Linked DNA regions of Homo sapiens: region 2 is linked to region 1. Evidence: fine-mapped QTL for protein levels in blood plasma. Region 1 holds a variant in brackets. A gene starts in the other region. All regions are shown on their forward strands. Region 1 overlaps CCDC97 (coiled-coil domain containing 97). Region 2 holds the start of ADAMTSL2 (ADAMTS like 2).

What was found. A credible set is the group of variants that fine-mapping cannot tell apart. PIP is the chance, under the fine-mapping model, that this variant and not a neighbour inherited with it causes the effect. The UK Biobank Pharma Proteomics Project read protein levels with antibody pairs (Olink). The fine-mapping took linkage between variants from a reference panel, not from the people measured, so its PIPs are less certain.
Region 2: it holds the start of ADAMTSL2, and the variant in region 1 is the best candidate, but not a certain one, in a credible set for the plasma level of the ADAMTSL2 protein (UK Biobank, PIP 0.52).

The regions. Positions count from the first base shown.
Region 1 is chr19:41,316,843-41,321,208 of GRCh38, forward strand. CCDC97 (coiled-coil domain containing 97) reads left to right here. Exons shown (of 5, transcript NM_052848.3): 3 at 2,732-3,010; 4 at 3,499-3,628. Among named protein-coding and RNA genes, the nearest start is that of CCDC97, 8.9 kb to the left of the region's middle. RefSeq lists an enhancer at 3,090-3,827. The variant C/T (reference allele first, on the strand shown) is at 2,444.
Region 2 is chr9:133,532,688-133,537,063 of GRCh38, forward strand. It overlaps ADAMTSL2 (ADAMTS like 2), which reads left to right and starts at 2,017. Exons shown (of 19, transcript NM_014694.4): 1 at 2,017-2,230; 2 at 3,876-4,115. The coding sequence starts at 4,026. RefSeq lists a silencer at 534-623 and enhancers at 882-1,423, 1,424-1,963, 1,964-2,505, 3,046-3,587, 4,128-4,376.

The DNA.
Region 1 (4,366 bases):
TGGGGGCCAGATGGGCGACAGTGGGCACATATGGGGAGGGAGGGGAGACTGAGGCAGAGGGAATTAGAGAAAAGAATACAAGAGCAGAGACAGAGATCCTGGGAGAGAAGTTCTGAGACAGAGACAGGGACACAGGAAGAGACTGAGACAGAAATGTAAAGTAAGGGGGAGAGATAGACAGGGGTCCAGGGAAGAGAATGGGACAGACAATGAGAATAGATCAGAATTTAGTAGATGTTAGAAGTGGCATTTCAGATTGGTAGGCTGAGGACACAGTACACAGTGCTGTGATAATTGGTCATACCTAAGGAACAAAACATGAGATCCCTACCTCATACCATATACAGAGGCATCAGGGGAAACCAAAAGGAGTATGTACATGACCTTGGGGACACAGAAGCCTTCTGAACAAGACACACGGTGAAAACCATGAAGGAAAAAAAAGATAGCTTTTTGACCATGACATAATTAAAAGCATCCTTGTGACCACAACACCAGAACCAAAGTTAAAAGATGAGAGTGAATGAAGCAGAGTGAGTTAAGTTGCCGTTAGGGAGAAGGCACAAGTTATAGAGAGGTTCACAGAGAAAGAGAGAGAGGCTGGGCATGATGGCTTATGCCTGTAATCCCAGCACTTTGGGAGGTCAAGGTGGGTAGATTACTTGAGCTCATGAGTTCAAGACCAGCCTGGGCAACATGGCGAAATGCTGTCTCTACAAAAAATACAAAAATTAGCTGGGTGTGGTGGCGCCCTAGCTACTCAGAAGGCTGAGGTGGGAGAATTGCTTGAGCCTGGGAGGTGGAAGTTGTGTGAGCTGAGATCCCACCACTAAGCTCTAGCCTGGGCGATAAAGCCAGATCTTGTCTCAAAAAAAAAAAAAAAAAACACAGATGTGGAAATGAGGATGAAAACAGAAGGAAGATGGGCCGGGCACAGTCACTCAAGCCGGTGATCCCAGCACTTTGGGAGGGCGAGGTGGGGGTGGACCTGAGGTCAGGAGTTCCAGAGCAGCCTGGCCAACATGGTGAAACCCCATCTCTACTAAAAATACAAAAAAATTAGCCACATGTGGTGGCAGGCAACTGTAATCTCAGTTACTTGGGAGGCTGAGGGAGGAGAATTACATGAATCTGGGAGGTGGAGGTTGCCAAAAAAAAAAAAAAAAGAAGAAAGATGAATGAGGTGGGGGTAGGTGACAGAAACTGAAAAAAGCAGGAAAGATAGAAAGATGGAGATAAAGGAAGAGATGGAGAGAGATCCAGAGCCGGGGTGGGTGATAATCCAAGTTGGGGAGAAGGAGGGATAGAAACTGAATCTGCTAGAGGCTGGGCACAGTGGCTCAGACCTGTAATCCCAGCACTTTGGGAGGCCGAGGCAGGCAAATCACTTGAGATAAGGAGTTCAAGACCAGCCTGGCCAACATGGTGAAACCCCGGCTCTACTAAAAATACAAAAAAAATTAGCCAGGCACTGTGGCAGGTGCCTATAATCCCAGCTACTCAGGAGGCTGAGGCAGGAGAATCACTTGAACCCGGGAGGCGGAGGTTGCAGTTAGAGTTAATCGAGATCACACCACTACACTCCAGCCTGGGCAACAGAGCGAGACTCCATCTCAAAAAACTGAGTCTGCTAGAGGATGCCACAAACAGCTGGGGGTAAGATTGCTGGCAGGAGTGGGGAAGCTGAGCAGGACAGGGACAGTCACAGCCTATGGTGCTGCAGAGGCCAGGAGTCCGAGCAGTTTCTTTGCCCTGGACTCTGAAGACACGGCTAGGACCAGTGGAGGGGAGGGACCAGGGCAGGTTTAACTGTTATTTGAGGGACAGAGTCACTCGTGCAGAAACAGGCAGCCAGGGGTGATGCAGGGAACTCAAGTTTTGGGGTAGTGGGGAAGCCAGGCCCACCTGAGGGGTTGCTGCATAGAGGAGCACTCGAGAGAGGATGGATCTAGGGCCTTCCACCACCAGGAGGCTTTCCCAGGGATACACGGGCAGATGCCCCACCTGACCTGATCCCTTGCACACACATGCCAAATCCACGTGGATGTACACACATACACGCCCCACAGTGAAGGCGTGTCCACTGCCAGCCAGACTAGGGCCCCACAAACAGGCACACAACCTAGAGACACACAACTTCTGCTGCATTGTCCTGCATGCTGACACCCAGACAGACAGGTGTCTGTGGGCATATGCTGGGCCTCACAGGACATGTGTGTGTACATAGGCCATGTACACGTCCATGGGCAGGAGCTTGTGCATCGTGCCTGGACACAGTTGTACACGAGCTCCAGACCGTCAGAGCCTCAGAGGCCAGGATGTAGCCAGGTCTGCCCATGCACACACATGCTTGGATGCATGAATACATGAATACACAGGAAGATAGAGGCCGGGCCACATACACACACTCAGGTGCCTGCACGAGTAATCACATGCACATGAC[C/T]TCAGGTGCCTGCATGAGTGCTTGCGCACACAGCTTCAGGCACCTGCATGAGTATTCACGTGCATGCCTCAGGCGCCTGCATTATTCACACGCACGCCTCAGGCGCCTGCATGAGTACTCACGCGCACCTCAGGTGCCTGCATGTTTTCCTGTGTTTTTGAATGTGTGCATACACACACTTGGACTGTGTATGCACATCATCCCACAAGCATGATCACACACATACCCACATGGACACTATCTGCTCAGTCGCTCACCCCATGCCCACCCTGTCTCTCCTCTGTGCAGGGGGCGAGTACTTCAGTGATGAGCAGATGCGGTTCCGGGCCCCCCTGCTATATGAGCAGTACATCGGGCAGTATCTCACCCAGGAGGAGCTCAGTGCCCGCACCCCAACCCACCAGCCCCCCAAGCCCGGGTCCCCCGGGAGACCTGCTTGCCCGCTCTCCAACTTGCTGCTCCAGTCCTACGAGGAGCGGGAGCTACAGCAGCGTCTGCTCCAACAGCAGGAGGAGGAGGAGGCCTGCTTGGAGGAAGAGGAAGAGGAGGAGGACAGTGACGAGGAAGGTGAGGGCCAGTAGCAGGAAGACCCCAGATTCCAGACACCCCAGCCCTAGGCCTGTCTGTCTCCACTTCATGGCAGCAGGCTGGGCCCCCAACCTGCAAAAGCCGACATTGCGTCCCTCCCCTGCCCAGCCTGACTCTCTGTGTATGCCCTTCCAACCGCTGCAGCATCCCCATCCCCCACTCTGAGGCACCAAATGAACCCTCGCCTCCAGGTCTGGACAGGCTGTTCCCTCCGCCAGGAATGCCTCTCCTCCCACCCTTCAGGTCTCAGATCCTGACCCGAGGATACAGTCTCCAGAGCACTATATGGTCATGTGTTTTATGCGTGTCCCTGGAGGGCAGGGACCAGGGCCATCTCTGTCACTAGTGTGTTCCCAGAGCCACCCAGCGCAAGGCTGGGCACAGGAGCAGCAGCTCTCTGTGGACTCTGTGCTCAGTGCCTGCCCGAGTGCACCCGCATTCACACCCCCTCTCCTCTCCCTCTGCAGACCAGAGGTCAGGCAAGGACTCGGAGGCCTGGGTTCCCGACTCGGAGGAGAGGCTGATCCTGCGAGAGGAGTTCACCAGCCGCATGCACCAGCGCTTCCTAGATGGCAAGGACGGGGACTTTGACTACAGGTGCTCCTGTGCCTCCACCTCCCCATCCCCCAGCCCAGCATCCCACGGCCTTTGGTCACATGCAGAGCCCTTAACAAGCTGTGGGGGTCTCCCTTTGTGGAGCTACAAGGCCCCAAAACAGTTCCAGGATGTGGGGTTGAACAGCCAAAGGAAGAGGCTGGGTGACCTCGGACTAGCCTTGTCCATCTCAGACCCTCAGTCTCCTCACCTCTAAGGCAGGGGATGGACAGGGATGACATATAGCTCAGTATCAATGAAACCCTGAAACACTTCCCTCCTGGCAATGGCAGAGGCTACTACCCCAAGCCCCCCAAGTCTCCCTAGGAAGCCCAACCTCTTCCGCTTCACCTTGGACCTCCTCATGCTGCAGGAAGTAACCCCTGGCAAAGTTCATGCCCGGCATGGAGGGGCCTGCACTGGCTGCCCCCACAGTTACAGTTGTTCATTTCTCCAGTAGCACCCCAGGGCTGAGACACGTGGGCCACCTGCTTTGGAAAAGGACCCAGGAGAGTGATGTGTCAGTCAAAGATTGGTTTTGTCATTTAAGGTAGCTTTGCCTTGTGGTCCCAAACACTGGGCCCAGCAGCAGAGGACCCTCCTTGGTTTCACATCCAGCCCCGATGACATGTGAAATGTGTGACCACACATAAGCGGACCCTACGTCCGTCCTGAGGTGGGCTCATCAGGAAAGTGGGAATTGTGATTGCCCCTGCCGTGGGGCCCAGCCATGGTCACCAG
Region 2 (4,376 bases), not on the chromosome of region 1:
AAGGAGCCCCTGGCATCAGGAGCTACCAGAGCACCTGCTACGTGCCAGTCATGGCTCCCTGTGGGCCTCAAGTCTGCAGGCTCTGGGGTAAGGGGTGGGGGTGGTGTGGAAGTGTGGCTGGCCAGGGGAGCTGGGGCCTGGAGGGTCACACACCTGCAGGAGGTCACAGAGCCAGGGGATGGCTGGCCCCACAGACCCGTCTCCCAGGTGGCCAGCCTGCAGCCTGTGCCGTCCTGCTGAGCCAAGAGAAGACACTGGGGGTGTTTGTGTTGGTCGGCTGTGGGGTCCCTCCCAAGGGAAACCGTTAGTCACCCTGGCGCTGGCTGGATGTGAGGCCACAAACGCCAGGAGAGCTCGGGGACTGTGCCAAGGGGTGCGAGGCCTGGCGGTCACCAGAAGAGAGAGGAAGGGGATGGCAGAGGCACCCAGAGCGAGTGTAATCCGGTCATGTGAGAGGGACTGGGTGTGTGTGTGCCTGTGTGTGTGTGTGTGTGTGTGTGTGTGTGTGTGCTGGGTGACAGGTGCCACCATGTCTGTGATTCAGCACAGCGACCCCAGGGGGCAGTGTGGGCCTGGGTTAGGGTTAGGGTTAGTCCTGGTTCCACACCGCAGGTGGCCCTGTGACTAGGAGCAGCCACCTTGCATCCCAGTTGCCCCAGCAGGAGAATGAGATGAATAAGACTTGCCTGCCCGAGGGTCCCGGGGAGAGAAACTTAAACAACCCGGCAGAGGAGAGAACCCGACACTCAGGAGCGCTGGCATCCCAGCCTTGCCTACTGGAGAGGTGACTTGGTCCCCGAACCTCAGTTCTTCCACCTGTGAAATGCAGATCATAAAGGTGGATCTGGCCTCACAGCTCTGGGCCCGTAGGACAAGCTGGACAGAGGGCAGACGGTATTATCGCTTTCACTACTATTACTGGTGGCTTTCCTTCCCAGCCTTTCTGGTGGGTGGTCAGACACAGGGCAGAACTTTCTCATGAAGGCAGCTGAAGGAACTCACAAGTTTCTTCCAGCAGGGAGGACAGAGGGAAGGAGAAGTGTCTTCCCGGCACTGCTGTGGGCCCAGGACATCTGCTGCATGGAGGCAGGGGCATGGATGAAAAGACACAGATGACCTGATGGAATGGTGCCCCAGCTTCCTCCTCCTCCCCTTTTTGGAGGTGCCTCTGTTTGCCGAGGATGGGCTCTGGGGAAGCTGGTGTGCAGAGGCTAGGTGCCCAGCCTTGCTTTAGGAAAGCCTCACAAAGTCTGGGGCCCGCCGGGAGTTTCCCAGGGGGGCTCTGCTGCTCCACCCACTCTCGCTCCCCTCTGTGCCCTGACTCAGCAGGAACAGAGGCTTGAGCTCCAGGCCTGGCCTGCCAGGGGCTGCCAAGTTGGTGCTGGACATCTGCAGAATCCCTGAGCCTCTCTGCCCTGGCCCTGGCTGCTCTAGCCATCTGGTCAGCAGGCCACGGGCACATCTGTCTCCTCCCTGGAGCCCTTGGTTCATTCTCGCTGGGTCTCCCTGCGTCCCTCCACCTGCTTAGGCCCCTGCATCTCGGGAGCTTTCTGAGGCTCGTGACCTGGGGCACGGTCGTCCCGGAAGTTCAGCCTTTCCCTCCGTACAACGGAGCCATCAGACGGGACACCTCATACATCCCAGACCCCATTCTCAGGAGCCCCAGGGACAGGGCCCGCTCTGGAGGCAGAAGCCGGACAGGCGGGGCTGGGGCTTTGCCACCGCCAGCCTCCCCGGTAACCTCAGGCCAGCGGCTGCTCCGTCTGGACACCCGACATGTGGCCCCCAGTTCTGGACCCGGGAAGAAGGCCTCCCTGCTCGCCGCTCCTGGGCCGCCGCCGCCGGCAGCAGCCAACAGGCAGCTGGGCCGGCCTGGCCGGGCTCCAGAGGCGCAGAGCGGGTTAAAGTGTGCGCCAGGCCGGCCGGCGCGGGCGGGGGAGCGGCCTGGTGGGAAGTGTGAGTGTTCCTCCCCGTCTGCCTGACAGCTATAAAGGCGGCCGCCGGCGCAGAGCCGCCACTGGGCTGCGCCCCTCCCGGGAACCCCCTCTCTTGGATGCTCTTTGAAGTGGGAGAGGGAGGCGGCGCGGGGGAGGAGGGGAAGGGGAGAGGGAGGCCGGGCCGCAGCCTCTGCACTCACGCCGCCCCCGCACGCACAGCGCACCTGGCGCCGTCTGCCCTCCGCAGCGCTCGCCCCTTTCTCTGGGAGGACAACCTGCTGACCCGAAGCCAGGTAGGCCACCTCGTCCCCGTCCCCCTCACGTTGCAGCGTCCACCAGGCCAGCCCACTGCTCAGAGTGGGGCTGGGGGTAGGAGCACCCCGCGCCCTCTGGAGCCGTTACATAACGTGGGGAGGCTTGTGGGGAGGGGTCGGGCCGCAGAGCACGGGGCAGGGTGGCCTCCCAGCACCTAGCCTTGTGCGCCCGGAGCTCTGTGTGCACGGCAGACCTCTCTGCTGCCGCCAGCCGCTGCTTTTGGACCCCAGGGAGGGATGGATCCCCGTGAGCGAGGCCTGGCCAGAAGCCAGTGGTGTCTGGAAGCCTTAATGAAAAAAGCAAGTGTGAGGCCGGCTGGCACCTGTCTTCAGCCGGCAGGCAGAGGCTGGGGCACCCGTTAGCCAATGGCACAGTGGAGGGGGCTCCTGTGGGTGTGAGGCTGAGAGTGCAGATGGAGGTCTGCAGGGGAGGGAGGTGGGGGGCAGGCGGCGGGGGCAGGGGAGGTCAGACTCAGGCTCCCCACTCCAGGGTGCACTGCTGCGTCGTCCGGGCTGCAGTGGTGTCCTTGGAGTGGCCCCTGAAAATCTGCAGGTGCCGGGCCTGCAAGGAAACTCTTCAAGTTGGATGGAGGCTGCTGAGGAGGGAGGGGCAGAGCCCGAGTTGGCCTCTGGCCTGGCAGGGGTGAGGGGTGACCTCCATGCCTTCTTCCCCTGGAATTGGCCAGGCGTGGGGGTCGAGTCCCTGAGTTTGCTAGTGTGCTACCTTGCTGTGTGGCTTTGAGCAGGTTGGCTCCCCTCTCTGGGCTCCAGGTTATGAGTGCAGGCTGCGTGGTTTCTGAAATCCCTTCTCTAACTCGCTGGCAAGTGACCCTCAGCACCTGAGCAAGGCCTGGACAGAGGTCATGGTGGATCTCTGGTCTTCCCTTCCACAGGGCAGGGTCGACGCTGAGGAGGGGGTGGGGAGAGCTGAGGGCCTGGAGGCTGGACAGTCCCTTCCAATGGGCTTGCTTTGACCCCTGGCAGGTGTTTTGAGCCAAGGGTGCTGGCTGTTGGGAGGAAGTCAGCCTTGTGGCCCTGGACTGCTGACATGCTGGCACAAACTGCACCTCCTCCTGCCCTGCCCCTCCCCCAATTCCATCTTCTCTCCGGGGATCGGGAGGCGGCATAGGTACCTGGGTTCTGCCTCACCTGAGTGCCGGCTGTTGCTGGATGCTGACTGTGGAGCTGCTGGTCTAGGGCGAGGCTGCACATTCCCCCGGGACCTGGCCAAGCCCATCCCCATGCACTGACCCTAGCAGCCAGTGGCAGAGGCCATTCTCCTGCGAGGCCAGCAAGAGCTGAGCCAGTTAAAATCCCAAGGTGCTCCTGCCAAGGCGCTGGACTGAGCCCAGGCCCATCCCTTCGAACCAGAGCCTTTCCCCCCGCCTGGGTCCCCAGCCCCCTCAGCCGAGGCTGGCTGTCTCCACAGCCCTTCTCTAGGGGGCTTGAGGACTTGGAGGCAAAGCATGGCATGCTTCCCTGCATGCCCTTGGATCAAGGGTGGCACAGGCTTAGCACGCACACCGCCGCTGGGTGTCTTGCCTGAAGCAGGCATTACTAATCATTCACCAAGCTCCTTCTTGCTAAGCCTAGACTGAGGCGGGGGGTTCATCCTTCCCAACAGGGTCTGCCAGACAACCACGACCAACTAGTCCCAGATAACCTTGAGGCCTGGGCACTGGCTGGGCCCCGAGGGCTCTTCCCAAAGCGTACCCTGGTCATCTGGAAGAGGATCGGAGCTGGCCTGGTGGTGACAGTGGCCTTGCTTCCTAGGATGGATGGCAGATGGCAATGTTCCTGCTGGGCCTGGTTCCTGCTGGTTCTGGCAGTTGTAGCTGGGGACACAGTGTCAACCGGGTCCACGGTGAGTGGGGTGTTGTGGTCTGAGGGCCCATGCCAGTCCCCTACCCAGGTGCTGTGATCACTCTCAGATGGACTGGCTTGGAGGGAGCCGTGTGGGCACGTGCCCCAGGTCCCAGAACCCATCTTGGCTCCTAGAAACTTCTGCCCAGAGCCAGTCAGATCAGCCTCTGAACTGGGGCCCTGGCTACTGTGGAGCCCCTGGCGACTTGGCAGGCGAGGGCTGAGGGGGCTGAGTGCTTCCCTTCCAAGTGAAGGCCCCAGC